Homo sapiens: one gene and its partners. The protein of the gene in region 7 purifies or fractionates together with the protein of the main gene of each other region. This does not show direct contact. Each region holds a gene or a part of one and is shown on either strand. Other genes may lie near its edges. The genes, in order: ERGIC2, RHOBTB3, RHBDF2, AXL, MYOF, RAB11FIP1 and RELT.

Region 1 (4,226 bases), on a different chromosome or scaffold from region 7:
CTAGTCTAGACTTTAAAGAATTGTGATCAGGTCACATTGTTAATAAAAAAAAAAAACGGGCTAGTCCCTATGTTATAGCCATATTAATGTTAAGCCATATTGACAAGACCAGTTATCCAATAATTTGGTCTTAAAAAGTAACTACTTTTCTTTGAACTCTGGTTATTGACTTATCTAACTGTTGAAGATAGAGTCTTAGAAGACTAAGGTAAATTCTCACAGGGGCAGATATGTAGGTGTTATGTAACTAGGGTGTCATTCACAAATGGTATAGTAGAATCTTATACACGGAAAAGAAAGCACATTTTTTTAAAAAAGATGCCAAGTTTTTTAATCTAATCATTATATTATTGGTGTATTTTGGGCAACATAGGGTGAGTTATAAAAAGATCCGCTACTGATAGTGAAAATTACCGGTTTGTAAAACATTAAGAGAAAAAATAGGATATTTTATACATGTGGTGAGTGGAGAACAGGGTAACTTTAAATGAAAGTGTAAGGCAAATTGTAAGCACCACAAGATATATCAGATTTGAGAGGTGCCATGTTAAACATTGTCCATTAAACTATAAAACTGTATTATGAAGTATTTGCATTCAGGGTGTCCTGAATATGATTGATTCTGTATTAGATTGTGTTCTAACTTTCTTACTATTTAAGGATTGGTTCTAAATCTTCACATTATAAAAGATTAAAAACAGTGAGAGGGAGCTATCACACAGGTACTATTAAAAGCTGTATTTGGAATATGTGTACCAATATCAGTTTTCCTTTTGTAGTACTGAATGGCAGTAGAAGAATCAGCAGCCAATCCTCAAAGTTTAAATCATTTAAGGAAATGGGGAAACAAAATTCCAGGTAAATAACAAGACTGAAAAACTAGATTTAAAATAGTGGTTTTAGAAAACAGGATATCACAAGTAACAGTTTTTCAAATGGATTTTTTTAAAGATAAATTTATGAAAACAGGATAAACAATATAATGGAGAGAAGGAGAAATAGTGATGGGTCTGTTTTGCAGTAAAGTTTATGCAGAATGACGTTTTGCAGAAAATAACAGAAGCATCACTTTAAAAAATATATCATTAAGAGCCATGACGTTAACTGATGAAAATAAGTGATATAACATACTTTGAAAGATTTTTAAACAGAAAATTCTGAATCGTGAATGAGCCTTCTCTAGGTTTTAATTTTTTTTCTTCAAATTATTTCCAACAAAGTTTGGCTATAAACTAACACCATCTATCCACAGGAATTTTAATAGGAAAGGATTAGAATTGTAGACTGATTGTTGGTCCTTTAAGTATGCTTGGAAGAAAATTCAATCGAGTTTCAAGGCTTTTTCTAAATGGGAGGGAGAACAATATTGATTTAGGATTATTTTCTTTCATTTAGGATTAGAACAGTTAAGTGCCTTTAAAAAGGACTTTAAAAATTATTTTGATACTTATATATGATTTTTAATTGTTTTCGTATTTTCCAAATACCATATTAAAATTTTAATGAAATTTATCTCCTATGAAAGGAATTTCTTTAAAGCAAAATTCTGCTTTGCCTTTGATTTCCATTTTAAAAGTTAAAGGCTTCCATCTGAAACTCCTCAAATAGAGTCAGATTTTTGGCAATGGAAGTATTAAAATTCCGATCAGCCCTTTGGACGATGAAGTTTACCTGCATATTAGGATTTGTTAGGAGTTTTTGGCCTCACCAAGTGATTCTTTTCTATTGCAGAGAGCACTTTACTCACCTACCTGTTATGCAACTTTCCCTATGCCTGGAGGTGCCTCCAGCCAGGATACCCTACTTTGTTACCCAATTCTCCTTTTTGTTTTACAAGAGTATTCATAATATCTATATGTTTATATTCCAGACTACATATTTAAAAATGAGATCTCAAATTATATGAAATGGATTTTTAAATACTGTGTTTGCATACATTGACCTATAAAGAAGATTAAATATTTAGGTGAATAATTCCCTGCTGCAGTATTTGTACACTTCAGACTACCTCTTAGGAAAAGCTTAACTTAGTATTGCAAAATTCCCTTTCTCTTTTTTTTTTTAAGAGATGGGGTCTCGCACTGTTGCCCAGGCTGAAGTGCAGTGGCATGATTGTAACTCACTGCATCCTCGAACTCCTGGGTTCAAGCAATCCTCCTGCTTCCATCTGCTGAGTAGGTAGGACTACAGCCATGCACCAACAAACCTGGCTAATTCTTTTTCATTTATATAGTTAGTATCTTGCTGTGTTGTTCAAGCTGGACTCCAACTCCCGGACTCAAGTAATCCTCCCACCTTAGTCTCCTGCATTGCTGGAATTATAGGCACGAGCCACTGCACCTGGCACCCAAATTACTTCTAGTTCTCAAGTTAGATGATTAATATCACACTTTTCTCATGTATGTTTTATGATAGCATTGAATTTTTATAATTAAAAATTTACTAATGCAAACAAGATTTACAGTCTTTAATACAATCTTAATTTTGGAATTCATGAAGGAATGACTAAGTTCTAATTTTTTTTTTTTTTTTTTTGAAACTGAGTCTCGCTCTGTCGCCTAGGCTGGAGTGCAGTGGTGCAATCTCAGCTCACTGCAACCTCCGTCTCCCGGGTTCAAGTGATTCTCCTGCCTCAGCCTGTTGAGTAGCTGGGACTACAGGTGCGTACCACCAAGCCCAGCTAATTTTTTTATATTTTTAGTAGAGACGGGGTTTCACTGTGTTAGCCAGGATGGTCTCAATCTCCTGACCTCATGATCCGCCCACCTTGGCCTCCCAAAGTGTTGGGATTACAGGCATGAGCCACTGCCCCTGGACAGATCTAATTTTTTAATAGTGTAAGAGAGATACACTGTGCATTCCATCTATGTCCTGAGTTAGTAATTCAAGTACCAAAAAGTAATTTAATATGAAACTCCTTGAAAATTCAGAGCTTACACTTGAATTCAAAATGCCTATTTTTGATTGTTTAAAAGTTACTTAAACCTGAGCTTTAGGACCTTTAAAATCTCAGCATGCCTTTTAAGCTAGTACTTTTCCTGTTTTGAGCTCTAGCAAACCTTCAGCAAGCCAAGGTGGTAGCCCTTTTTCAACACAATCAAAATAGAGAGGTCACCAGTTGTTTACTACCTTATGGTAAAATGCCCGGATCAAGATCCATGTATCCCCCCCATATTGTGATGATGCAATCAAAGCATAGTTTTTTTCTACTTTCTGAAATATTACTGATGAAATCACTTTACATTTAAGAGGAGAAAACAGACTGCCTTGGATTTTTTTTTTGTCTTGAGAGAAAAAACAAAATATTTAGTATTGCAAGCATAAACATTTGGACTCAATAAATGACAAATTATGAAACTTTTTTTGTCTTTTTAATACTAGGAGAAAATTAAAATCATGTACCCCCAAATAAGCCTCAGTTCCCATATTTAAACTTTTTTCTCATAGGAAAGCTACAGGAATTTTAAGATATCACATGGTTACATTTGCTTTTCTTCCAGATGGAGCTAAATTGCTATATGATACAGGGTTTATTTTATATTTCTCATATTAAAGATGAAAAAGTGAAAATTGAGTAGTTGACTCAAAATTATATGTATATATATATATATGTTAACAGTTGAATACAAACAAGATTACAAGCAGTGAAACATTCAAATAGTTTTGGCAACTCCAAATATTTTGTGTTTCACAAAAGGAGTTAGGTTAACTTTTCCAAATATAACTCATTTTATACTATTTTAATAAGGAGAAACTTAAGGATGAGAAGGCATGAGGAAAAGTATACATTAGTGAAAGCTATATACTAAAGCAGACCTTCAACAACAGCTCATAACTAATAAATGCTTTGTATTTTGTTTTCAAGCAGTTATGTAAATCAATTTGGTGATTTCTTACACTGTACTTACATTTACTTGACCCAAATTGCCGTATCAATCACATCTCCTATCCCTTTTGCAGTTCCAGGTTGGAATCAGTATTTCAAATAAAGTAGGGACACATCTAAAATATTTGTGTATCGGTAAAGGTGTTTCTGGCTATTTAAACTCAAGCATCCTTTGCCACAGTAGTATCTCCGTTTTGCACGGTACTACTGTCTCTCAAACCAGTTACATCTGAAAACCAGCAATTACTAGTCTTAGTTAATTACAAAAAAAAAAAAAAATTAAGCGATCTAGGCAGTGAGCATTTTTCCATACCTTTATGTGGGCATATGAGAATCATTA
Region 2 (4,328 bases), on a different chromosome or scaffold from region 7:
TATTTAGCTTTATTGTACTGGATATCTGTATTTACTGAGTATACCTATATGGGAGTCCCTTATATTACTTTGGAATAACAGTTTTTCATATATAAAAAATGTTGTGAAACTTACTGGGAGTGTATGTAATATGCTTTCTAAGGTAAATTATAAAAATTAAAACCAAAGTGTGAACTACTGAGTACTGCATAAAAAGAAAAAAATGAAAATATAATAGTTGTCAGAATAGACAGTTTAGATGCAGTGGTTTGCTCATGTTATTATCTAGCATAGACTCAAGGAAAATTTGAGCTAAAAAGAAAAGGAAGTGAAAGATTACCTGATCAAGGAGTTTCACAATCTGGACAAATAAATCTCCGTGGAGATAACTGAAGTGTCTTCTAGGGTGGGGGACAGAAAGTAGGGAGTGGGTGAGGAGAAGGAGAGAGAGAGGGAGTAAGGGAAAGGGAAAGAGAAGGCTAAAATTTACAGTTCTTGGACTCTTCCCTCCCTCCTTCAGTCATAGTAGTTCCACTTTATCTGTTTCATATCTTGAGTTCTACCTAAAATTTTACTTCGTAAAAAAGACTCTGCTGGTAAAAGATATAAAAATCATATGGTCAAGATGGTGATTCCACCTCGGTGTAATCCCAGCCAACTTGGGAGGCTGAGGCTGAAGGATCACTTGAACCCAGGAGTTTGAGTCCAGCCTGAGCAACATAACGAGACTTCTGTCTCTAAAAGAAAAAAGAGTAAAAATCTCTTGTTTTTATTCAGCTACTTGTGCAGTTAAAGAAAACCCAGGAACACACAATCCGTTTTTGGGAGATGTATTCAGCCAGTCAACAAACATTATATGTCTATTAGGAGCCTCCTTATATAAGTCAACTATTAGTACAGTAGAGAAGCATAATCACATCAAAACAAAACAACAGTTATTTATTAGCTATGTACTTTGTGCAAGGAAAAAACAGTCAGTTCATAAAGATAAGGCTTGTGTATGCTTGCTGTCAGAAGGAACATTCTTCTATAGTTATTTAAGTAGCTGCTTCTATAGTTATTTAAGAAGCTTGCTAAAAGTTAAATGAATTGCACTTTGGTCCTGGAGCCAGTTTCATTATGTTACCTGAGGTCACTCTTATTTGTAAGAGAAGAATAAGATTATTTTCTACTTACTATCTTGTATAGATATATGGTATATATGGAGTACTATTACAACCTTGGGAGAAGGATGGTCTATAAATCCTTTTAGTTATGAATTTTCATTATATGGTATTACCCAATTACCTATAAAGTATGTTATGACACCTGGCATGGTGCAAAGCAGGACTTCCAGTGCGATGTGAGGTGGCAGGCTAAGGAGGAAACGATGTGTCGATGTTGCCTTCTGTTCCTTTGATGGGAATTAAAAGGGAATCATGAGAACTCTCATTCTGCAGTGCCTCTTCCTGTCCAGGGTCCTGCTATGAGGTGTCATCCTCTTGGGCAGAGGAAAAAAGCGCCTTTTGGATAAGGGAGAATTTAATTGTCTAAATCAATAGTTACTAACTGGCCATCTATGGTTTAGGTGTAGCCTGCCAACGTGTTTTATTGGGACCCCACAGTTAAAAATATATAGTACTGGTATTTAAAAATAACCATATTTTGGCTTCTTTTGAAAAATTGGAAGATCTGGCTACCCCAGGCCCATCATCCTAGTGGCAACATGTGGCTTGGCGCTGACGGCCCACCTAAAGGAGCATGCCCTCTCCAGAGGGTCGCAGTCACTTCTCTCCAGTGCTTTACACCTGGCCCACTGCACATGGTCACCTGAAGTTGGGAAAGTTTCTTGTCACGGTCACTCTACAGCTTCCTTATAGAACTGTCCATCTTCAGCTTGAAAAGTTCTCAAATTATTATTGGAATTCTACAACTTGTTTTCTGTTGACTGAGAATTTTTCATTTTTAGAGGTGTTTAGAAATCAAAAAGTGAGACTGGAAAAGATGTCATGTCAGTACAGGCACAGATACATCAGAACCCAGTTAAATAGGTCATTAAGTATTAGATTTTTATATACTGGACTCATGAACACAAACAGCGGTGCACAGGAATATGTTACCCTTGGCATTTATGGATTCATTATTCTCGCAGTTTAATTTAGCTCGATATTATGTGTTCTGTGTTATGGGGTTTTGTTTGTTTTGTTTTGCTGGCTGCCAGAGCTCATCTCTAATAACTTTTCTCTGGTTTTTAATATTTACTGAGGGAGTAGTCTCATGTCACCTTTGCTTCCTCTTGAAACTTAGAGCTGAGCAGCTAGTTTGTATGGTCCTGCAGGCTGAATCAAGACCCTGTTAATCTGACTTATAATAGATGAGGTTAAACAGTAGATGGAGAATCAAGTAATTCTCCTGCCTCATCCTCCTCAGTAGCTGGGATTATAGGCATGTGCCGCCACACCCAGCTAATTTTTCTTTTCTTTTCTTTTTTTTTTTTAGTAGAGACGGGGTTTTGCCATGTTGGCCAGGCTGGTGTCAAACTCCTGACCTCAAATAATCCGCCCGCCTCGGCCTCCCAAAGTGGTGGGATTACAGACATGAGCCATCGTGCCTGGCCTCCAGCAAGGTCTTTATGATCTATATCTTGAGTCGACCTCCTATCTCATTCTGTAACCTAGAATGCCTAACTGTCTGGGAATGCAGCCCAGTAGGTTTCAGCCTCATTGTCCCCAGCCCCTATTCAAGATGCAGTTGCTCTAGTTCAAATGCCTCTGACAGTTGTGCTTCACCAAACCTAGAGAATGAACAAAGCGAAGGACCTGGAGTTCAAGAATGGAGGGATCCAACTCCAAGGCAGGAAGCAGGTCCAGAAAGCAGGCAGGGCAGCAGCAACAGGGAAGAACAGCTTATCTGATGACTGGCTGGGTGGGAAGCACAACTGAGAGGACTTGAAGGACTTTGGAAGACTAAGTTAGCTACAAAGAAAACTAAGTATTATACCAAAAAAACTTATCCGGGCGTGGTGACAGGCGCCTGTAGTCCCAGCTACTCGGGAGGCTGAGGCAGGAGAATGGCGTGAACCCGGAAGGCAGAGCTTGCAGTGAGTCCAGATTGCGCCACTGCGCTCCAGCCTGGGCGACAGAGCAAGACTCCGTCTCAGAAAAAAAAAAAAAAGAAAAGAAAAGAAAAGAAAAGAAAAGAAAACTAAGTATTATAAATGGAAAAAAAAAATAAGTCCGTTATATCCAGGAAAAACAAAAGCTTTATTGGAAAAGAAAAGGAAGCCAGGCGTGGTGGCTCATGCCTGTAATCCTAGCACTTTGGGAGTCCAAGGCAGGCAGATCACGAGGTCAGGAGATCGAGACCATCCTGGCCAACAAGGTAAAACCCCGTCTCTACTAAAAATACAAAAAATTAGCTGGGCGTGGTGTCACACGCCTGTAGTCCCAACTACTCGGGAGGCTGAGGCAGGAGAATTGCTTGAACTGGGGAGGCAGAGGTTGCAGTGAGCTGAGATCACGCCACTGCACTCCAGCCTGGGCGACAGAATGAGACTCCATCTCAAAAAAAAAAAAAAAAGAAAAGGAAAATAATGAAATACTACTCGAAGTAGTGGACAAGATATATATAATTGTAAGTCACATAATAACTTAAATCCTGATACTAATTTAACCAAAATGGTAGTAAATTATTTGGGAAAACTTGTGGGAATGGTAGGAGATGTATCACAGAGCTGGATCTCATCTATTAAAGAGGAAATCAATAGCTGATATCTTAATTGATCCATAATAAAACATATTCGGTTAACAGTCTTTTTCTTAAAACTTCAGTGGAAGAACGCAGTTTTGTTGAAAAGCACAGATGGCCGTCGAATATGTACTTGAAGCAGCTTGCGGAATACAGGAAGTATATTCACTCCCGGAAATGTCGTTGCTTAGTAATGTAACCTGGAGCTTTTATACACTACATTTCTTTTTTATTATTATGAAGAATGGGATACCTCCAGGTTCCAGTAAAATTCTTCTGACCGAAACCAATGTGGGTGTTAGAAAAATTACCATATAGCTTAATATGTTTATTAGTTCTCTTTGGAAAAAAACTACCACTGTGGTCTTAAAAGGGAACAAAATATACCATAGGCTAAAACTAAGGCTTTCACTCTAGAATGCAAAGCTGTTTTGCAGCTGTTTTCCCTTAAAGATGTCCTGTTGCTTTAGTGATATTTAGACCCCTCTCAGTTAAGAAATGCTTAGATTAAAAAAAAAAAATTACGTAGGATTAATACAGAAATTTAATCATGTCTGATTAATTGCTCTATTAAAATAAGGGGCATTTAAAGACCCAGCATAACCATTTGTATAATGAGAAAT
Region 3 (4,565 bases), on a different chromosome or scaffold from region 7:
CCCACAGCAGGGCCAGGATGGAGGACGCTGCATGCTGTGCCAGAACGAGTGTCTAGTGGACCTCCCCACTAGACTCCCCACTAGACTCCCCACCTAGCTCCCTAGCCCACCACAGGCACCGCTTTTGGTTCTAGGGTTCTGCCCAGCCAGCCTCCCTGTCCCAAGGCCAGGCCATCCCAGCTGAGACCCCTGCCCAGGATCCGCTGCATGGCTGGCATCTGTGCCAACCTCCTGATGAGAGAGGCTCCCAAAACCCAACACTGAGGGAGAGGAGAGCCTGGTCAGCCCCAGGGCAATCAGTTGGGGGGGGGTCCCGAAGAGAGGTGGCCTGACACCAGACAGCAGAGACAGGGCCAGGGCGGGTGGGCATGTCTTCCTGGGCAGGAGCCTGGCATCGGGAGTGCCATCTGAACCGCAGAGCACAAGAGGCCTGGGCAGCGGCCTGAGAGCAGCTCCACCCTCTGGCCTCAGTTCCCTTCTCTGAGGGAATGGGACAAGGTCACGGCCCAGCTTTGACACCCATGAAGCCTAAACATGGAGTATGGAAGCATGACTTTGCACCAGCCACTTTCCACCATTGAGATCAACTGCCTCCAACTCGTGCAGAAGTTGGGGTGGGGGTGCAAAGGCCCAGCCCCTTCCTTGGGGCTCAGCGGGGAAAGGAGTGGGGACTGTCAGACCCACTCTGGCCTTCCTCATGGCTCAAGTCCAGATGGCAGGAACCAGACAGAAAAAAGCGCTGGAGAGCTGGAGCTACCCCACCCAGCACTTATCTCCGAGCCCTAGAGATGCTTGCTCACTGCAGGGGAAATGGTGACATCCTGGGACCAGGCTTCCTCCTGGCCCGCAGTCACATCCGCCGCTCTCTCTCTAAGACCCCCAGGCCCGCCTCCGCACCCAGCCCACAGGCGGAACACTGCCACCTGCCCAGCCAGATCCTGGCCTCACTGTGGCCAACCCCAGAGAAGGGCCTTCAGCCCCAGCCCAGCTGGGAGATGCCAAAGAGACCTGGGGAGAGGGACTGGGGCTTAGGGTGGGACAGACTCTATTTCCTCCTCCTTTAGGGTGGGGCGGGGGAAATCCTGAAAAAAAGTGAAGTGCAGAGTTCAGATCACCCCCAGGTCCCATGGGTTGAGGCCTCTGTACCCTCCCCTGCCCAGGCTCAGGGCCTCCCCCACTGCAGATAGCTTTGGAGACAGCATAACCCAGCTGGCAGCAGCGGACCTCAGACACATCCAACGAAACACAGACTCAGACACCATTTACCACTGCTGCCCAGAGAATCTGGTTTCCCCACAAAGGGTGAGGCCAGGCACTCCCAACCAAGCCTGTTCCGCACAGCTGGGTAAGCAAGGCCACCCCCAGGGAGGTCCCCAACAGCTCTACCAGCCAGTCCAGGCAGGGTACAAGGGTCCCCCCGCCATGCGGACTGTACAAGCCACACTCCTCCACGCGGGCCCAGCCCACTGCCCCTCCCAACTCCCCCAGGTGCAGTTCCCTCTCTCCACCTGGTGCCACCAATCTCCCTGCACTCCCCACCCCCACACAAGTGGGTTTCTAGAAGCTCTGAGTCTTGCTAATGAAGGGTGCAGTCCCCACAAGCCCTGGGCTCTATGGGCTTTATGGGGCAGGGCAGGGAGAGCGTGACAGGTGCAGCCCAGAGGGAAACAGGCAGAGGCTTGATGCAAGGGCTGAGCCTGCGTGTGGCCAGAAATGGGGACACAGGGGTGGGACGGGACAGGCCCTTGGATAAGAAGTAAGCAGCCCCCTCCCCTCCAGACAGGAAAGAGGGAGACCATTATTATCCACTGGATATGACCAGGAAGTTTAGGGGGCTCAAGCCATCTGAAGACAGGATGTGGGGAAACCACCCCCTGGGCGGGAAGCTGCTTCCAGCCTGGCTCCGGAGCCGCGGGTGGGCGAGGCGTCACCTGGTGTCCCTGGGAGTGGGCAGTCAGGACAGAAGGAGGGCGGTGGGAGGCTTGGGGCCACGTCTTCGCGGCTGAATCACAGGATGCTAGGGTGAGGGCTGGGGACAAGGAAACTGCTTCTCTCCCCAGCTCCCTTGCCACAGAAACTGAAACTCATTTTCCCTGCCTGTGGCCCTGCTGGGAACCAGGGCATTTTTAGAAAGCTGCAAAGAGGAAGCTGAGCCTCACCCACTGTGCAATCCCCAGCAAAACCCGTGGTACTGCTGACCCCGGGGTTTCTCCAGCCCCAGAGGCCCGGAAGGACAGCTCATGGCACAGCTGTTCTTACACCTCCCCATGCATCCCCAAGCTGGGCCTCACGTAGCCAGTGACGCTGCCCTGGCAAGAGGTAGAAGGGGCAAGAGTAAAGGGCAGGAAAGTGGCAAGAAGGCTGGCTGGGGGCCTGGGGGCAGAATTTGGGGAGAGTCATGAGAGGCAAAACAGAAGGGCAGGGTTGGCATGAGCTGCGGCGTGAGCTCCACCGGCAGAGTTAGCAGAGGGGAGAGGGGGCTGGGGACTCTGAGGGTGGGACACCCAGCTGTCTGTCTCCAGGAGCCAAACAGGAGCCACTCTCCCTCCCTCTCAGCACCACCTCCCCAGAGGCCGGAGCTGGTGGCAAGTGGGCGCAGACACGATCTCAACCCACTCCGCCGGTACACGCTTCAGCCCACAGCTGCTGATGGAGAGAAACAAAACGGCCTGTGGGTTCACACAGCTCCCCAGACATCCCACGAACAGCGGGTCCTGGCCCAGAGAGCTGTTTCTTTCTCCTCCTCGCCCCTCCAGGGCTTGCCTCGAACTCAGTTCAGAAGATCAAGAACCCCCAGGGGCAGCTTCAGGGGACTGACCATCCCCTGACTTCTCTGGGCTTTTTCCTATCCGGCCCCAGGCTCTGGGCTCCCCTTAACCCGGTTAGAGTGGCTGGGGCGTCATAAGCCAACCACAGACACGGGAAGCGGGTGCTGTGCTCCAGGGAGCCGCCAAGATCAGGGGTGTGAGGTGTGAACCTGTGTGTGTGTGTTGCGGGGGGCTGGGGGGTGACATGTCATGTTCTTAGGGTGGTGCAGCCCCTGACGCCCCCTCTGCACCAACCATCTGGGCTTTCTCAGGACCAGTTGCCAGCAGGGATGGCAGAGATACAAATGCCCCCTCCTCGGCTGGGGTTCCTGGTCCAGGAAGCAGGCTGAGCTGGGGGTGCTGGAGTCCTGCATCCCCGAAGCCCAATGTGCAGCAGCTGCTGGCAAGACACAGGGGTGGGCACCAAAGGAGGTGGCAGTGCAGCCAGGCCTCGAGCTGGACACAGCGCTGGGCCCCACCCACCACAGTGCCCTCCCCTGGAAATTTCTGGATTTCAAAAGCTGCTGGTGGAGGCTGGGCACAGTGGCTCACACCTGTAATCCCAGCACTTTGGGAGGCTGAGGTGGGCAGATCACCTGAGGTCAGGAGTTCTAGACTAGCCTGGCCAACATGGTGAAACCCCATCTCTACTAAAAATACAAAAATTAGCCAGGCATGGTGGCGGGTGCCTGTAATCCCAGCTACTGAGGAGGCTGAGGCAGAAGAATCGCTTGAACCTGGGAGGCGGAGGTTGAAGTGAGCCGAGATCACGCCACTGCACTCCAGCCTGGGCGACAGAGCAAGACTCCATCTCAAAAAACACACAGACAAAATAAAACAAAGCTGCTGATGGAGGCAGGCAAGTGGCAGCAGCTGGGCGGGGATGCAGGTGCCTTCCACATCCCAGGGAAGAGGCAGCAGCTCCCGAGCCTGGGGCTGGACTGCAGGCTTTGGGGCAATGAAGGGAAGGGGGCACGCACAGCAGCCGGGCCCCAGTTCTCCTGCTCCCTCAGCATCGTTGTGAAGGGGAGGAGTCAGAAGTGGCCCCTGGGGGCCAAAAGGCCCTGTCCATTTGGGGTCAGACACCAGGACACTGGAGGGTTTCCGGGGTGGGGTGTGCACCACACAGTGCCACAGCAACACAGGCTCGGTGGGAACTGCCCTTTGCTGCAAACGTTCATGAAAGTCTGCCTCTCTGCATCCCGGCAGCCGGGTTTTCACGGGTCCTTGGAAGCAGTGGTGGTCCAGCACAAGCCCAGCGGTTGGGGCAGGATGAGATGCAGCCTGGGGTCTGTGTGAGAGGTCCGTTTCACTCCTGCTGGAGGCTCCTTGACACTAAGGTGTGACCAGGCCATTTCCGTTTGTGACTGTCCCATGTACACAGACAGGGCACTGTCCTGTGCTTACAAAGTAGGAGCCCACCCGGTTTCCACCTGCCTCCAGACAGTGAAAATCTGTCCCGATGGCAGAAGACAGGGTCACAGGCCCATCTCTAACCACTGTGCGATCTTGGGCAAGCCACTTAACATCTCTGAGCCTCAGTTTGTGTATGCATAAGATGCTAGTATCCTCCCAGGGTCTAAGATCTATGTGACTTTGTCACCATGAACGAGGGCTCACCCCAGGAACAGCTCAGCTGAGGTACAAGGTCTCACCTATTGTACAGAGAGGTAAGCACCTTGCCCAGTGCCACCCAGCCAGAAATAGGCCTGGACTGGCTGGGTGTGAGCATGCAGAGCCCAGGGAGCCGACGGCATC
Region 4 (3,587 bases), on a different chromosome or scaffold from region 7:
CTGAATAGTGGTGTGTACATGCCCAGGATAAATACAGGCCCACGTGTGCATGGTAGCAATGTAGACAGTTTAGGTTAGAAGAAGCTGCAGTGATTATGCGTGCATGTGCGCACACTCATAGAATGTGGACAGCCAGGGTGTGCAGAGTGGCACATGAGCTCATGTGTCCATGAAGTGTGTATATGTGTGTGATGGTGAGCATGTGTATGCATCCACAAAAGTTACTTATTCATGTGTATACCCGTGTCAAGTATTTTTTATATATATATATTTTTCTTTTTTTGAGATGGAGTCTCGCACTGTCACCCAGGCTGCAGTGCAATGGCATGATCTCAGCTCACTGCAGACTCTGCCTCCCGGGTTCAAGCAATTCTCCTGCCTCAGTCTCCCGAGTAGCTGGGATTACAGGCGCCCACCACCATGCCTAGCTAATTTTTGTATTTTTAGTAGAGACGGGGTTTCACTATATTGGCCAGGCTGGTCTCAAACTCCTGACCTCAGGCAGTCCGCCCACCTCAGCCTCCCAAAGTGCTGGGATTACAGGCATCAGCCACCGCACCCGGCTAAAGTATTATGTTTCTATGAATACTTGTGATGCTCCCAGAGGATGGTTGTGAACATGTGTACATAAGTGTGGGTGTACCCATGAACCTGGGTATTGGTGCGGGTGATTCTGTGCAGGAGAGACTGTCTAATTCCCTCTGCCCCTCACAGTGGTCCTTCGGGGTGACAATGTGGGAGATTGCCACAAGAGGCCAAACCCCATATCCGGGCGTGGAGAACAGCGAGATTTATGACTATCTGCGCCAGGGAAATCGCCTGAAGCAGCCTGCGGACTGTCTGGATGGACTGTGAGGACCCTTAGGTCTCCCCCAACCCAGAATTCATTCCAAACCCCTGACTACCCCCAGATGGCCCTCACAGGTCCAGGACTCTCTATAACCCAGACAGAATCCCTGAGAATGCTGAGTGACCCACTTGCCCCTCACCAATGCTCTGAGTAGGGCCATCACTAACCAGTGGGGTGCAAATCAGCTAAAGGCACCCTTTCCTCCTTTGTCTGTGTGGGCTGAATCAGCCCCCTGGCTCCCCACCCCCAAGCCAGGTATCCTTGGGTAGTGAATAACAGCACAGTCTTACCTGGCGGCCCTGCCTTTGGGACATGCACTCCCAGAGACTTCTCATTCCAGACTCCTGAGCACACCATGCTTCCCCGACATGCTCCTCAACACCTGAGACTCTCTGCAAAACCCTTCAGTTTGTTTTATTGGCCTTCTCCAGACTCAGGTCTCCTCTGAGATATTTGCAGGATCCTTCAGGGAATGCTTACCAAACTTTGCAATATTGGAGTATGCGGAGAAGGCCGTGACATTTAGCTAGCACTTTGAGGGTAAAGAGAGGATGACTTTGGGTCAGGAGGAGACAGCCTGGGGCGTCAGACTCCTCAGTCCACCTTGGGTACTCCAAGAGCTGAGACGAGTAAAAATAACAGCTAACATTTTCATATAACTGACTAGAAGGCACTGTTTTAGGTGCCTGGCATGTGTCAAATCATTTGGTCCTTACCACAGCCATGTGATGTAGATAGGTATCATTATGATTCCCATTCTGCAGATAAGAAAACCCAGTCCTACAGGGAGGGTAATTTATTTTTATTTATTGACTTGAGTCTCGCTCTGTCGCCCAGGCTGGAGCACAATGGCTCCATCTCGGCTCACTGCAACCTCCCAGGTTCTAGCGATTCTCTTGCCTCAGCCTCCCAAGTAGCTGGGACTACAGGCGTGTGCCACCATGCCCAGCTAATTTTTTTTGTATTTTTAGTAGAGATGGGGTTTCACCACCTTAGCCAGGATGGTCTTGATATCGTGACCTCATGATCCACCCGTCCCAGCCTCCCAAAGTGCTGGGATTATAGGCATGAGCCTCCACGCCCAGTCTGGGAGGGTGATTTATTTGCCAAAGATTGCACAGCTGGTGTGTTTGTTATCTATATCCCCAAATCAAGTAGTTTAAAACAACAAACGTTTATTATCTCACACAATTTCTGAAAGTTGGATACTGGGAACAGCTTAGCAGGGTGATTTTGGTTCAGGATCTCTAATGAAGTTACAAAGATATCACTGGGGGCTGCAGTCATCTGAAGGTTGGGACTGGAGGATTGCTTTCAAGGTGGCTTACTCACATGGCTGTAGCAGGAGGCTTCAGTTCGTTGCCATGTGGACCCCTTTGTGGCACTGCTTGAGCTTACTCACAACATGGCAACCCAGGAGAAAGTGCGAGGAAGCCACATGCCTTTTATGACCTAGTCTCAGAAGTCACACACACCATCACTTCTGCCAAATCAGAAGCAAGTCACTAAGTCCTGCCCATGCTCAAGAGGAGAGGATTTATTCTCCGTCTTTTGCAGGGAGGAGGGTCAAAGAATTTATGGACCTATTTTAAACCAGCACAGCTTGTAAGTGGCATAGCCAGGCTTTGATGCAAGTCTGTTCTGGGGAGCTGGAAGGTCTGTTCTAGCAAACCCTCATCAGAATACTACTCCATATACAGACAGGTTTCCCGAGACCCTTCCCAGCTCCTGAGTCTCCCAGGACCCAACTCAGAAATTCTTGGGAATTCCCAAATCCCCATAGATGGCCTCAAACTGCTGAGGCTCCCTATAACCCTCTAAAATGCCCCCAGTCCCCTGAGTGTCCTAAAATGTCCCCAGGCTTCCAGAATGCACCCCTTCTGAGTCCCTGCTCAATCTCCCACCCCTCATTTTGCTGCCCTAGGTATGCCTTGATGTCGCGGTGCTGGGAGCTAAATCCCCAGGACCGGCCAAGTTTTACAGAGCTGCGGGAAGATTTGGAGAACACACTGAAGGCCTTGCCTCCTGCCCAGGAGCCTGACGAAATCCTCTATGTCAACATGGATGAGGGTGGAGGTTATCCTGAACCCCCTGGAGCTGCAGGAGGAGCTGACCCCCCAACCCAGCCAGACCCTAAGGATTCCTGTAGCTGCCTCACTGCGGCTGAGGTCCATCCTGCTGGACGCTATGTCCTCTGCCCTTCCACAACCCCTAGCCCCGCTCAGCCTGCTGATAGGGGCTCCCCAGCAGCCCCAGGGCAGGAGGATGGTGCCTGAGACAACCCTCCACCTGGTACTCCCTCTCAGGATCCAAGCTAAGCACTGCCACTGGGGAAAACTCCACCTTCCCACTTTCCCACCCCACGCCTTATCCCCACTTGCAGCCCTGTCTTCCTACCTATCCCACCTCCATCCCAGACAGGTCCCTCCCCTTCTCTGTGCAGTAGCATCACCTTGAAAGCAGTAGCATCACCATCTGTAAAAGGAAGGGGTTGGATTGCAATATCTGAAGCCCTCCCAGGTGTTAACATTCCAAGACTCTAGAGTCCAAGGTTTAAAGAGTCTAGATTCAAAGGTTCTAGGTTTCAAAGATGCTGTGAGTCTTTGGTTCTAAGGACCTGAAATTCCAAAGTCTCTAATTCTATTAAAGTGCTAAGGTTCTAAGGCCTACTTTTTTTTTTTTTTTTTTTTTTTTTTTTTTTGCGATAGAGTCTCACTGTGTCACCCAGGCTGGAGTG
Region 5 (4,565 bases), on a different chromosome or scaffold from region 7:
TTGTTTGCTGAAGAATTTGAAAAGAGAGGAAATAATTGATAATTGTTCATTATGCCATTATACCTTTTCATATAGTTTAACCTGTGAAATCATGTAAATATTTTTGTATATTCAAAAAACAAATAAAATGAAACCAGCAAAGATAGGAGAGGGAACCCTAAAGTGGAATATAACCAGAAATAAAACAGATCTAATTACATTTCAGATGAATAACATAATTACACTAAACTAACCCAAGTAACTTTTGGAACACAGTATTTTGACTATGTACACTTTGTTAAAAGGCAGAAAAAAAAAACCCATAAACATATTGAACTCTAATTAGTAGGCTTATTTTTCACAGTGGTTTATCTACAGATTTTAGGATTGAACCAAGGAGTAAATATATTGAGGATAACAAAGGCCAGATTTCTCACTGTTGGAGAAGAAAGTTAGAGACATAGAAATACAGAGGACTAGGATAAACCTTGTGGTATTGGACTGGAATTGGAAGTATCTTTATGAAGTCATAGCTTTTAATATATTGATAGATATAGAAATAAATAGACATACATGTGTCTGTGCAAATTCGTTTGCTGAGAAGGCCTAGAAGCAATGATATTTCAGTAGTAGTGAGCACTGTATACCCAGATTTTGTTTCTAAAATGCTATTCCCCACTCAAAGGAAAAAGCTGCTTGGAGAAATAGCGATTTACGGACTGGGGCAGAGAAAGTACAAGATAAGCTCAAAACATATGGTTCTATTCCATTGAGCACCTGCCAACAGAGAAGTTGAGGAAGAGCCTACCATGACTGTCAAAAGTCCTAATCAGGGAAAAGGGAAAGCCACCATCCTGTCCAGATTAGGCAGCCTGGTCAGTGGAGAGAGCTGATAAGAAGAACCAGGATGAAAATTGCTGAAGAGCATCTCAAACACAATTAGAACACAGGTGCAACTAATTCTCCACAAATGCCTTTGAGATGTACATTGCCTATCAATTGCAACTTTATTTTCAGGACAGTTATGATTAAGTCAATTTAAACCTATAGTTATCCTCCCAGATTGCCTTTATAACATAAAATGATATTTCAGATTTTGCCGTCGAGTTTTAGATCAAGTATACTCCTGAAACCCCATATGTTTTGGTCCAGCCCTGGTAGAGATTAGATCTTTAAAAAATTAATATTAACATAATGTTGAAATCAAAACACCAATGCCAGATGGATTTTAGCACTACCTGATAGGAGTAACTTAGTATATGTGTATATGTGTGTGTGTATGTGTGTGTGTGTATATATATATATATATATATATGTATATATTTATCTTTTTAGACAGAGTCTCAATTTGTCCAGGCTGGAGTGCAATGGCGCCATCTTGGCTCACTGCAACCTCCGTCTCCCGGGTTCAAGTGATTCTCCTGTCTCAGCCACCCTAGTAGCTGGGATTATAGGCTCACATCACCATGCCCAGGTAATTTCTTTTGTATTTTTAGTAGAGACAGGGTTTCACCATGCTGGCCAGGCTGGTCTCTAACTCCTGATCTCAAATGATCTGCCCACCTTGGTATCCCAAAGTGCTGGGATTACTGGCGTGAGCCACTGCACCTGGCCCAAGTAACTTAGTATTTTTGCTTAATTAGAAATATCACAGACATATCCCCCTTCTCCTCACCAATCTAGTTGACCAATGTCAACTAGACAGATAATCACAGATATCATATGTATGCAGTTTTCACCCAAGGAAATCCCCAACCTCCAAACAAAAGAAGTTCCTCTAGTCTGCAGCAAGAGTGGAATGTGTCAGACACTGGTTCCTCAAAGCTACCTCTTCCTGCAGTGGAGATTTCCACTGCAAAGTTCTCAGAGTTTCATATTGCTATTGGAATGAACCATTCTCTCTACACAAAAATTACGGCAGAAACTATGAGTTCCTGTTCCACCCCACTCCTACCTTTTTAATCCTCCCCTCTTCCAAAGTAAGAAAATTTTTATCTGGGCATATGCCTGCCCAGGCATAAGACTAACATTTTCCACCTTCGTTGGAGTCACATGTGGCTGTATGACTGGATTCTGGCCAGTGGAAAGTGAGTAGAAATTAAGAGTATGACTTCTGCATCCTTCCCTTCAAGAGAAAGGCCTATGTCATCTTCTCCCCACTGTTTACCAGCCCTCCCCTCAGGCTGGAGGGCAGATGTAGTAGTGAGCTGCCTCTACCATGCAGACAATGATAACTCCTGAGTGATGGCAGAGCAACCGGGGGTAAGAGCCTGGGTCTCCAATACCACTGAACCTCCATACTAACTTAGGACCATCTACCTCCACTGTTCCTAGAGACATTGCTCTTACCTTATTGATCACTGTACTAAGCACTTTCTTGTGTTATAGTGGCCTGGCCTCCATCCTAATACCTAATTCACCCTGCTTGGTGAAAAGGAAATGCAGAAAAAGAGAAACTTACCAGCCGTTCTGCCATAGCTAGGAGAGTGTTCACCGCATCCAGGCGATGACTAATATCCTCCCAGTATGAAGTCAGGGTAACAACTGGCTTGGTGTGGGCCCAAGGCAAGTAATAATAGTAGTTGCCTGGTATAAAACATTGGGGGTCAATGAACACTGAACACTTAAAATAGACAGCATGTTTATTAAAGAGATGTGCAGACTGAGCTGCTGATTAATCCACAGGCTTGGGGAATAGCTTGAGGTGGTCTGGTTCTTTAATTTGACTCAATTAAGCAACTGAAGACTAGGAAGCTCTTTTTCATTCAGGCTGTTCTGAAATTTTCTCTGAGACACCCTAGTAAACTGAGCACAGCAATCTCAGGATCGTTTAGTGATTCAGGGCCATGCATCTGAACATCAAAGATGGTTTCTTAACGTGGTAGTAGAAAATACAGATGACATAGGAAGCTAGACTGAACATGTTAGTCCCTAAAAACTGTTATTCTAAATAAATGTTTTTGTTGGAACTGGGGCAAAAGAAAAGAATTTTCTGTTCTTGGAAAGCTTTAGCTGGCTACATAGGGTTTGGTACTAGAGCCTTACTGTGATTAAGAATTATTAGCTGATGTTTCCTAGGATGTCTTACATTTTAAAACTGCTTGTACAAAAATTAAGTTAAAACTCTGGCAATACTGTTGGGAAATTTGATCAGTATTCCTCTCTCCCTTCTCTGTACTCTCAAACCATTTGTTGACAGTTTTATTGGAAGTTCTCATACTTTGCTTTCTATTATGATTTATTTTATACACTAGAATGTAAGCTCCTTAAAATCAGGGACTGTTTCTCACCCATCTTTGTTCAAATACAGCTATTTAATCCTCATGTCAACTCCAGAGAAGACGAAGAAACTGAGGGTTAGAATTCAGTGACACGGTTAAGGTCACAAGCTGGTGAGTAACAGAGTGAAGACCAGAAGCATGATTTCCCAGTAGCTGATCCAGAGTCCCATTCATTTTCCACTACTCAGCCTAAGAAAGATTTGGGGCTTCGTAGGGGTAGGAGCTGCTTTGCGGAGCTCAGAACTTAGCACAGTGGCTACCTTGGGGTCTTACATGGCAAAACCATTGTTAAAGCTGGGTGGGGAGAGGGTAGCATTGGGGTTCAGCCTCTGGCAATGGGACCTGCAACTTCTTGGGTCTGGCCAGTCTTTAAGGTGCCTGAACCCCAACCACACTCTCTTCCTCATTCAACCTTTTCCTTTCCACTAACCATAGGCTGCGTAGAACAGTGCCAGAGGGAAGACACAGTGCTTGCTTCCGGTCCCGTGGTGCACCCATTGTAAACGTGTGGAGAGAACTGTTAGTGCCAATCTTACCATCAAATACAGCACGGCTGTACTGAGTTGTTGATGCCAAAGGCTTACAGGTGGTGTCAAACTTGTTGCCATAGTTCCCAATGCTGACTTCAAACTGAATGGCCTCACCAACATCTTGCAACATGGTGGCTGAATGAAACACGGCAGACAGGCTGTACTTCCGCCTTCGCTGGTATTTCTATAAAGTATGAGCAGACATAAGGTTCAGTGAAAGGCCATTTGTTCTTATTTACATGTGGATTTCTAGGAGACGCAATTCTACACCTAATAATTAGTGCTGAATTAAATGACAGGGGAGAATGTTCTTGGACCCAGCTGTTCCTCTTGCACTCATACAAGTGAGCAAAGATAGAAGCACTAGGATGTTCCTGGCAGCATTGATTGAAATGGAGGGGAAGAAATGAAAACAGTACACAAGTCTTTCAGTAGACCACTTGTTAAACAAGTTATGTTATATCCATAAAATAGAATGAAGGTTCATAAAAAGACTTAATTAGGTCCATATGTGCAACCATGAAAAAAGAGTATATTTTTTGGGCTGGGTACGGTGGCTCATGCCTGTAATCCCATCACTTTGGGAGCCCGAGGTGGTTGGATCACTTGAGGTCAGGAGTTCAAGACCAGCCTGGCCAACATGGTGAAACCCTGTCTCTACTAAAAATACAAAAATTAGCTGGGCGTGGTGGTGCACACCTGTAATCTCAGCTACTCGGGAGGCTGAGGCACGAGAATCTCTTGAACTCAGGAGGTAGAGGTTGCAGTGAGCCGA
Region 6 (4,565 bases), on a different chromosome or scaffold from region 7:
CCACCACTGCACCCAGCCCCTCAGTGTATACGTTCTGCAACTTTTTTTTTTTTTTTTTTTTTTTTTGAGATGGAGTCTCGCTTTTTTGCCCAGGCCGGACTGCAGTGGCGCTATCTCAGCTCACTGCAAGCTCCACCTCCTGGGTTCACGCCATTCTCCTGCCTCAGCCTCCTGAGTAGCTGGGATTACAAGCACCCGCCACCGCGCCCAGCTAAATTTTTGTATTTTTAGTAGAGATGGGGTTTCACCATGTTAGCCAAGATGGTCTCGATCTCCTGACCTCGTGATCTGCCCGCCTCGGCCTCGCAAAGTGCTGGGATTACAGGCATGAGCCACCGCGCCCGGCTTTACTTTCCGCAACTTATTGAGAGATGTCATGATCCTTATGGACCCCTTCAGGGTTTCTACACAGAAAAGAAAGAGACAAGAAACAGAGGGCCCTCGAACTCTCAGAAATAGGCCAAGATGGCATAATTAAGTCTATGAATCAAGATAGGTTTTCTAAGTGGAGAGCAATACTAAATTTCTTGTAGGTGAAGACTAAAGGAAATACCAAGCATCTTTATTTTAACAATTCTCTAAGAATTAGAAAAATTAACTCATTTTTAAACATTTAAGTCTACCACACCCATCATCATGACTTACCAATTCTTTACAAAGCTCGATCCTATCTCAAAAAGCCACATATGTTAATATTCTACCATCAAATCCAGTATCTCACCTCTTGCTCAAATGTAAATGCCACTGATGCATTTATTTGTTCTGTCAAAGAATATTGTCTTGGGGCAACCATGGGGTCCTCACATACAGAGACTTTAAGAATGGAAAAATAAAATGCAATAGTTTGGTTCACCACCCCTTAACCAGGACAAAAGAAAACAAACTTCAGCATGACTGACATCAGAGAACACTCAGCCCTTCCTCACCACATAAACTCCCATACTTCTTGCCATGAGAGTTTCTGGCAAGGAAGCAGAGTATCTATGATTTATTCCATAAGCAAGGTAAGTCCAAAGGAAGGGAAAATAATTACACCAAAAGCATTTCTTTTTTTTTTTCTTTGAGACAGAGTCACCCGGGCTGGAGTGCAGTGGCGGGATCTTGGCTCACCGCAAGCTCTGCCTCCCAGGTTCAAGTGATTCTTCTGCCTCAGCCACCTGAGTAGCTGGGATAACAGGTGCCCGCCACCATACCTGGCTAATTTTTTGTGTTTTTAGTAGAAACAAGGTTTCACCATGTTGGCCAGGCTGGTCTCGAACTCCTGACCTCAAGTGATCCACCCACCTCGGCCTCCCAAAGTGCTGGGATTACAGGCATGAGCCTGGCCTCACCAAAGCATTTCTAAATCCTGTTTTAATAACAAATGATTAGTAAAAATGAAAAGTTCTATTTTGGTGAACCACATGTCACAGTTCTCTGCATGGGAAAGGAGCAGACTGAAGAAACATCTGGGGCCCCAGTCGACTGCTACTGTATTTCACACAGGATGCCCATTCTTTTATAATAACCAGAGGCCTCTTTAGACCAGGCTTTCTAGAGGCCTTAATTGTTCTACCTAGACGCTAGCCATGTCCTTTTTTAAAAAGTGAAGTGGCAGTCACACCTCTAGAAATATTTTTTGGGGATTTCTTATAAATGCCTTCCCTCTACTCCATTCAAAGGCCAGCATTCAGGAAAAGATACTTAATTACCATTGCCTTTTTTCTCTCCACAGGCACATTCCTAAATGTGTCCCCCAGGAACACCCTGGAGACTAAAGCCCTTGATTTTCCTCTAACAGATTATCAACAATCGTCTCCCTGCAGGAGAGGAATTTCTGTCTCATTAGTGGTGAAAACTGCCTCCTTTGCCACAGGCATCATTAGCCAGCAAGCCGCAGAAAGTAACCTGCTTCTTCAAGAAGAAAAGGGTACTCAGGAGGCTGAGGAAGGAGAATCATTGCTTGAACCTGGGAGGCGGAGGTTGCAGTGAGCTGAGATTGAGGCATTGCACTCCAGCCTGGGCAACAAGAGCAAAATTCTGCCAAAAAAAAAAAAAAAAGAAGAAGAAAAGGGCACTGACCACAAAGCCATACCCCAAACTGGGAAACCAAAAGAAGCAGAGCTTTGATTTCATACTTCGGACATCCCCAGTCTGTAATCTACCAGGCTAAACATAAGATTAAATGCTTCTCCACGTTCACCCAGGCAATCTACTGCCTGCCCTGTGCCTACAGGAACCACAACCACTGCCTCCCTCACAGATGCATTTATTGAGCCCCTACGCTGGGTAACACAGCAAAGGACACAACAGACATGGTCCCTGTCCCAGAGGAAAACAGGGCAAAGTCAGGCTTGGTCTCCTCCTGAGCCAGCTGGGGCATGAGATCTGAACCAGGACATCTTATGGAGAGCAAAACCTCTCTCGTTGCCAATACAAGGGTCTGGGGGTTAATTTTGTTGTAATTCAGAGACCCTTAGGTCTAGAGATCTGTGCCAGACCCAGAACCAAAGGCCACCTAGGGAAGTGCTCTGAGATGAAGATAAGGCCTAAAATGACCTCCCATCACTCTCTCTATTCAAGGCTAGACCTTCTTAATCCTTCTGGAGCTAAGCCAGAGCTAGCTGTCCCTCCTTCAAAAGTATAGGGTAAGAAGCACAATTTTCCAGGGCGTATAGCAATGAAAACCATAGTATCTTAATGGATGTCTAAGATTATTGTTAAGGGATAGGAAGAGTAATGTCAGCAAATACATGTTAGAGTTGATGGCATTTTAATAAGCATGTGGATTGCTTGTAATGTAATTATAACATTTTTTAGTTAATAACTACAATTAAAATGACATATCAGATACTATTTATAAAAACCTTCCTCTGATGGGAGTTACAGAAATACAATAGAAGTCTTTGTAACCAAAGGCAGTTTAAGTAAAATGAGAAAGGCACAAGACTCTTTTCTATGCTTACAGTTCGTAATGCAAAAAACATTTAACTGGTTCACTTACTTGAGAATTTTTTTTTCATTTATGGGTCTAACTTTACTAATGTTATATATTATGTTCTCCTTTTCTTAGTCCTATATCCCTTAAAGCAGTGACTTCATCTGCTGTGTGACAGCACATCAATGAGATCACAGCAGCTCTGCTGTTACAAGACAAAGACTTGGCGGTACTGAGTGGGTAATCACTTGCAGACACATACATACACGCCCTGGTTTCAATGGCATTTCCTAGTAATTCACTTCAACAGAAATCTCCAACAGAAATCTCCACTCACAGGTGTCACAGCCCAAAGCTGTCTTTGTAATGGTGACCTCACCCTGGTATCACAGTGACTGTAAGGGAAAGAAAGCAGCTGCCACTTCCTGGTTCACTTTCAACACCAAGCTCTCCTGATTTTATGTGTTCATTCTTATTACTTTCTTTCCCTCTCACCCTACCATATCCAATCCATCATATGTCAGGTCAGTTGAACCTCCAAGATATTTCTTAAATCCACCACCTCTGTCCACCTCCACAGGTGGCTTGGACATCATTCTAGTCCAAGCCACCACCATCCACCATCTAGATTACTGCAACAGCCTCCCATTTTGTCTGTCCAATTCTAGGTTAGGCCAGCTTCAAATCCATTCTCTACCCAAGAGCCACGGTGATCTCTGACAAATAAATTGGACCGTATCAACCCACTACTTTTATTTATATTTATTTATTTATTTATTTATTTATTTATTTATTTATTTATTTTGAGACGGAGTTTTGCTCTTGTTGCCCAGGCTGGAGTGCAATGGCGCAGTCTCAGCTCACCGCAACCTCTGCTTCCCAGGTTCAAGCAATTCTCCTGCCTCAGCCTCCTGGGATTACAGGCACCCGCCACCATGGCCAGCTAATTTTTGTACTTTTAGTAGAGCCCATGTTGGGCCAGGCTGGTCTCAAACTCCTGACCTCAGGTGATCCACCCACCTTGGCCTCCCAAAGTACTGGGATTATAGGTGTAAGCCACTGTGCCCAGCCCCCACTGCTTTTAATTTTAACACTCAGTGGCTTACCATTCCTCCTAAGTAAAGCCTCGCCTTCCTCTTCAGCCTCATCTTACACAAGCACGCCCCCACTTCCCAGGTATTCCTGCCTCAGGGCCTTTGCACAGGCTGCTACTCCTCCACCAGGCCCCCTTCCTCCACTCCTCACTAGAAAAATTCCTCTTCTTTCTTCAGCTCTCTGCCTCAGAGAGGCTACCTGCAATCTCCTTCTTTAAATCATGTCCTTCCTGCCCTTTTCTTCTATAATATCCTGTCCTCTTTCTCCACAGTACTTACCACAATATATGATTATTTATTTGTGAGTTCTTTTTTCTTTTTTTTTTTTTTTTGAGACAGAATCTCACTCTATAGCCCAGGCTGGAGTGCAGTGGAGCAATCTCGGCTCACTGCAATCTCTGCCTCCTGGGTTCAAGCAATTATCCTGCTTCAGCCTCCCAAGTAGCCAGGATTACAGGTGCACACGACCACACTCAGCTAATTTTTGTATTTTTAGGAGAGACAGGATTTCACCATGTTGGCCAGGCTGGTCTCGAACTCCTGACCTTAGGTGA
Region 7 (4,565 bases):
TGCCCCTGGCCCTCAGGGCCCTCCCAGGACAGGCAGGAGAGCAGGGCAATGCTCACCAGGTCGGGCTCCTCCCCAGGTGGGCACTGCCAAAGGGTTGTTGATGTCAGGGTGGCGAGAGGCCAGGGCAGCAGCTAGAAGAACAGTAGGCATTGAAAGAGGCAGAAAGTGCTGGGTGTGGGGTCTCTGGGGTCATCTATCCCCCACCTATTTCCTGAAACCCCAGTGGTAGGGACCACTGACTACCCCACCCGGGCTTCAGGGACACACTCTTCTAACCTCAATCCCTCACACTGAGGAAAACCTGTCCTGTCCCAGACCTGCTGCAAGACCAGTACCTGGGCAAGGAGAGAGCCACATCTGGCTCTGGAAAGTGCTGGAAAGCCCCAGATAAGGCCACATCAGGATCTCAAGCCCTTCCAGCTAACCAGAACGATGAGGAGGAAATGCTTCCGAATCCTCTCTCGTATTCTGCCCCCACTTCCTCCTACTTTGGGTCCATCCCTGGCCCCATCACAGCTGGGCATATCATTAACCAGCCTCATTTATAATCCCTGGAGCCAAGTCTGCAGGTGGCGCTTCCTATTCTGGGCTCTCCCTTCAGCGAAAGTCTCCAGGACCACATCCTCCTCTGCAATCTTCCCTCAAGGCGAGGCTACCCCATTCACACCCACACACCCAAACAGGGAGACGCATCCCAAAAGAAAGCTCCATCTTCTCAGTGTGTGTCCCCAGCCCATTTCACTAGGAGTTCTCTCTGCTTCCCATTCTTAGGAATGAACTGTCTCTCCTGAATCCCTCCTAGAGTCCCCCAATTTGGCCTAGGCTGGATGAGGCTACCATCAGCTGCCCTGGAGATGGAATAGGGATCTCCTCAGACCCCAGAGCGGCTCCCAGCACCTGCTAAGGCTGGAAGGCCTCCTGTACATGGAGCAACCCTTAGCAAGGCCCAAGGCCAAGTCTCACCCTCCCTGAGCTTCTAGCGTCACAGCAGAAAGATGGGCCCCAGGGCAGACCCCAAGATGCTGCAAGTCTGTAATGTGGACTTGCCTGCAGCTCCGGGCAGCTGGCCTGATCCTGTGATCCTGGGACCTGGAATCTGGGATCCCCCAGACCAATACAGATCTTGAACCCCAGCACCTGAGGTGCTATGGCTCTCAGGGTCCAAATCCCAGGCCTCTTTTGCCCAGTTTCCTCTTGGTGCCCAGCATACCCTCTGGGCTGGGCTCCGTTCTCATGCCTGCGTGCCAATGGGCATCTTGCCCTCAGCCATGCCTGCCTTGCCCATAAATGCCAGCAAGCCCTTCATTCTCCATCTCCCTGACAAGCCTGGGTGGGCCCAGAGGTGCTTCCTAGGGTCCAGCTGCCTCAGATTCTTGACGAGCTGAGTAACTGAGCCCTGCCCAGCAGGGGGTTCCCCGGGAGTGTCTGCACCCTCTTGCTGGAGGGCTGCAGGGCTGAGGGTGCGGCTTTTCTCCTTCCCAGGGCCCATCCCCAGCTCACCATAAGGAAGCAGGACAGGGGCCGGCACAGCAGACTTGGCTTCATCCTCAGGCCCCTGGTGGTCGCCGGCCTAGGGCAGATGGAGAGGAGGCTCGGCAGAGCGGCAGGGACAGGCAGGCAGCTGCTGTCCCCTCAGCACCACTTCCAGGATGACAGGACTCATGGGGAGCAGGCAAGGTGCTGCTGGGCAGGCAGAGCCCGGGGAGGCCGGCTCCACACCCGCAAGCACAGGCCCAAGCAGAGGGGGCTGCCCTGCCTGGGAGCCGGCCTCACGGGGCAGCACAGGCAGGAAGGCAGGAAGAAGGCTCTGCAGGCTGGGAGGCTTCCCAGAGGAGGAAGGGCTTCCTTCCCCTTCCTTAAACTGCCAGGTGCCCCGAGGCATCAGCAGGGGAAGGAAGCGCGTGTGGCGGCCTGTGTCCGTGATGACAGGGTTGCAACCAACACCCAACACCCCAGCCCGGCCTCCACACTCCAGCCCAGCGCTCCAGGCTCAGGCTCCCCCCGCCTCCTCCTCACAGGTCTGCAAGCATGCCCGGCCTCTGCCTTCACTCCTGCTGGTTCTGGTCCAAGGAAGGCCTTTTCCTTTACCCTTCAAAGCTCAACACGAAGGCCTCTCTTTCCAGAAGCTTCTCTAGAAGCTTTCCCCAAAGTGGGTCTGGCTCCCACAGCTCCCCACCCCATCTAGGTCCTGGTCCTTCTGCATGGCCACTGTCCACACCTCTTCCAGGGAGGCTGACTCCTCCCTTGAGGCTGGAACATGTCTGGCCACAGCTCTTCCCCTGGCAGACCTATGGGGCTGGGGTGGTCACGGCAGCCAGTGCTCTGTCTTTGTCATCTCTCCAGCACCTACTGCGTGCGGGCACTGGAGAAATCGGTATGAACAAGACAGACAAGGTCCCTGTCTGCAGGGAGCTCCATCCCAGGGGAGACCCAACTGCAAACAGAGAGGTGCCCCTGCCATTTGGTGGTAAGTGCCAAGAAACGAAATAAAGCAGAGTGGGAGTGCAGTGTGTGATACTTCAGAGAAATATCCATGGTGGCGTCACGGCCCACCGGTCTGAGACTGAGGCCCCCAGGCCCAGACGGTGGCCTGCTCTGGAGAAGCCTCCGGCCAGTGGACGAGGCGGACACAGCAGGACAAAGGATTCACATCAGACAGCAGAAGGGACAGGTGGCAGAGCAAGGAAGTCCGCTGTGTACTTCCTGGAGGCCTGGCTTCAGGGGCACGAGGCTGAGGAAAGCCGTGCTCTTCAGGCCACACGCAGCCTCTTAAGCCCAGGGGCAGCCTGGGAACCCAGCCACTGGCTCAGGGCCGCCGCGGCTGAGGCCCCCGCTGTGACTCCAAGGCCGGTGAGGTGAGAAAAGCGCCTCCTGTGGTAGTCCCAAATCACTCAGAGTCCTCTCCCTGCAGGCAGCCCGGCCCTCCCACCTAGAATAGCAGCCCAGGAAACCGATCTGTCCACCCGCCCTCCCTCTTGGCAGATCTCAGAGGGGCCCAGGGTTTGAGTTACACTCAGGGGAGGGAGTGGGCAGCAGTTACATCATCTCAGGACTCTCCAGGTCACTGGCAGCCACTCTGGGTCCCAGGCCAGCTCAGGGGAAAGCCAGGGACAGGAGAAGGTAGGGCCACAGTATAGGGTGGAGGCCACACCTGGCAGTCAACACCCAACAGATGGCACCCCCAGGCTATTTGGGGAGGGTCCCCTGTCACTCCTTAAATTTGGTCACAAGTCTTCCTTCCAGTTTCTGCCCCAAAGTGTCCTGTGCCCTTGTCAGGGCCCAGCTCCCACCTCGAGCCTGTCTCCCCATGGCCCCTCCTCTGTCCTTTGAGGGATCTAACCCACAGACCTGACCACGAGCCCCAAGTCCTCAGGCTTCACTTCCCCACTAGGCCTGACTACGCAAGACAGAGCCTGATGCTGGGGGTGGGGGCAGGCTGTGGCAGGCATGGTGGCTCACGCCTGTAATCCCAGCACTTTGGGAGGCAGAGGCAGGTGGATCACGAGGTCAGGAGTTCAAGACCAGCCTGGCCAAGATGCTGAAACCCCGTCTCTAGTAAAAATACAAAAATTAGCCCAGTGTGGTGGTACAACTTGTAATCCCAGCTACTCGGGAGGCTGAGGCAGGGGAATCGCTTGAACCTGGGAGGTGGAGGTTGCAGTGAGCCGAGATTGTGCCACTGTACTCCAGCCTGGGCGACAGAGCAAGACTCCATCTCAAAAAAAAAAAAAAAAGACAAAGCCAGGGGGAACCGTGACCAACCCAACAGCCCAGCCCCCAGCTCTAGCAGCCCTCCATGTCCCCAAGGTAGGCCCAGAGGGCTGATGCGGGGGTGAAAAGAGGCCAAGCAACCACAGCAGAGAGCCCTAGAACCACCCCAACCCTGGGTGGCACCTGCTAGGTGACCTGAGCCCACAGGGAGCAGCTGTGCAGCTGCTCATCTGCAGACAGACGCAGAGCTGTGTGATCTAGAACCTTCCAGGAAGAAAGCGGGGTCCAAAGGCCCAGACTCAAAGCCAACGAGGGCCCACTCCAGCACACGCATAGACACTGCCACCTAGGGCCTTGCACCTTCTAATTACGCACCTTCTCATTACCCCAAACCAGCACTTACTCCAGTCTGGCTGCCCGGCCCCCACACTCAGCCCAGACTGAGCCCCCACTGGACTTGCCCGGTCAGGTAGAAAGGCCTGGTGCACACACATGTCCACACCTGCTGCTCAGCACCCCTCACACCCTGCCCCACAAGGCCTCCACTGTCTAAAACGGCCCTGGAACCGTGACCAAAAAAACAGTTAGATGGAAGCCCCCTCGGCTGGGAGGGGATATCTGAAGGTCCCATATCCGTCTCTGCCTCATCCTAAAGGCTGGGCAGTCAGTGAGGCCCCAGAGCCTCCGATGCCTGACAGAGGAGAGCCACACCCAGCCACACTGGATGGGGAGGAGGGGCCCCAGGGGGGTAGCAGAGAAGGAACTTGGCTTAGAGGCCACTCCTCCCATGTCTCCTAGCCTGGGGCCCAGTCTCCACTGCCACCAACTCCCTTTGGGACCTTCACATCACTGGG

The links.
Region 1: the proteins of RELT (region 7) and ERGIC2 purify together in Homo sapiens (affinity purification with mass spectrometry; one large-scale study listed by BioGRID and IntAct). This does not show direct contact.
Region 2: the proteins of RELT (region 7) and RHOBTB3 purify together in Homo sapiens (affinity purification with mass spectrometry; one large-scale study listed by BioGRID and IntAct). This does not show direct contact.
Region 3: the proteins of RELT (region 7) and RHBDF2 purify together in Homo sapiens (affinity purification with mass spectrometry; one large-scale study listed by BioGRID and IntAct). This does not show direct contact.
Region 4: the proteins of RELT (region 7) and AXL purify together in Homo sapiens (affinity purification with mass spectrometry; one large-scale study listed by BioGRID and IntAct). This does not show direct contact.
Region 5: the proteins of RELT (region 7) and MYOF purify together in Homo sapiens (affinity purification with mass spectrometry; one large-scale study listed by BioGRID and IntAct). This does not show direct contact.
Region 6: the proteins of RELT (region 7) and RAB11FIP1 purify together in Homo sapiens (affinity purification with mass spectrometry; 3 studies listed by BioGRID and IntAct, with this or other methods). This does not show direct contact.

Annotation. Positions count from the first base shown.
Region 1 is NC_000012.12:29,336,483-29,340,708, reverse strand, and holds the end of ERGIC2 (endoplasmic reticulum-Golgi intermediate compartment protein 2), read left to right. Parts: 3' UTR 1-3,357; downstream 3,358-4,226. UniProt on the Homo sapiens protein: Possible role in transport between endoplasmic reticulum and Golgi.
Region 2 is NC_000005.10:95,789,271-95,793,598, forward strand, and holds part of RHOBTB3 (rho-related BTB domain-containing protein 3), read left to right. Parts: intron 1-3,788; coding exon 3,789-3,904; 3' UTR 3,905-4,328. UniProt on the Homo sapiens protein: Rab9-regulated ATPase required for endosome to Golgi transport. Involved in transport vesicle docking at the Golgi complex, possibly by participating in release M6PRBP1/TIP47 from vesicles to permit their efficient docking and fusion at the Golgi.
Region 3 is NC_000017.11:76,491,131-76,495,695, forward strand, and holds part of RHBDF2 (inactive rhomboid protein 2), read right to left. Parts: intron 2,025-4,565; exon of another isoform or gene 1,932-2,024; intron 1-1,931. UniProt on the Homo sapiens protein: Regulates ADAM17 protease, a sheddase of the epidermal growth factor (EGF) receptor ligands and TNF, thereby plays a role in sleep, cell survival, proliferation, migration and inflammation. Does not exhibit any protease activity on its own.
Region 4 is NC_000019.10:41,256,779-41,260,365, forward strand, and holds part of AXL (tyrosine-protein kinase receptor UFO isoform 1 precursor), read left to right. Parts: intron 1-714; coding exon 715-851; intron 852-2,774; coding exon 2,775-3,126; 3' UTR 3,127-3,587. UniProt on the Homo sapiens protein: Receptor tyrosine kinase that transduces signals from the extracellular matrix into the cytoplasm by binding growth factor GAS6 and which is thus regulating many physiological processes including cell survival, cell proliferation, migration and differentiation.
Region 5 is NC_000010.11:93,377,423-93,381,987, forward strand, and holds part of MYOF (myoferlin), read right to left. Parts: intron 3,975-4,565; coding exon 3,797-3,974; intron 2,566-3,796; coding exon 2,441-2,565; intron 8-2,440; coding exon 1-7. UniProt on the Homo sapiens protein: Calcium/phospholipid-binding protein that plays a role in the plasmalemma repair mechanism of endothelial cells that permits rapid resealing of membranes disrupted by mechanical stress. Involved in endocytic recycling.
Region 6 is NC_000008.11:37,888,750-37,893,314, forward strand, and holds part of RAB11FIP1 (rab11 family-interacting protein 1), read right to left. Parts: intron 1-4,565. UniProt on the Homo sapiens protein: A Rab11 effector protein involved in the endosomal recycling process. Also involved in controlling membrane trafficking along the phagocytic pathway and in phagocytosis. Interaction with RAB14 may function in the process of neurite formation.
Region 7 is NC_000011.10:73,386,117-73,390,681, reverse strand, and holds part of RELT (tumor necrosis factor receptor superfamily member 19L isoform 1 precursor), read right to left. Parts: intron 1,571-4,565; 5' UTR 1,546-1,570; coding exon 1,501-1,545; intron 1,493-1,500; exon of another isoform or gene 132-1,492; coding exon 57-131; intron 1-56. UniProt on the Homo sapiens protein: May play a role in apoptosis. Induces activation of MAPK14/p38 and MAPK8/JNK MAPK cascades, when overexpressed. Involved in dental enamel formation.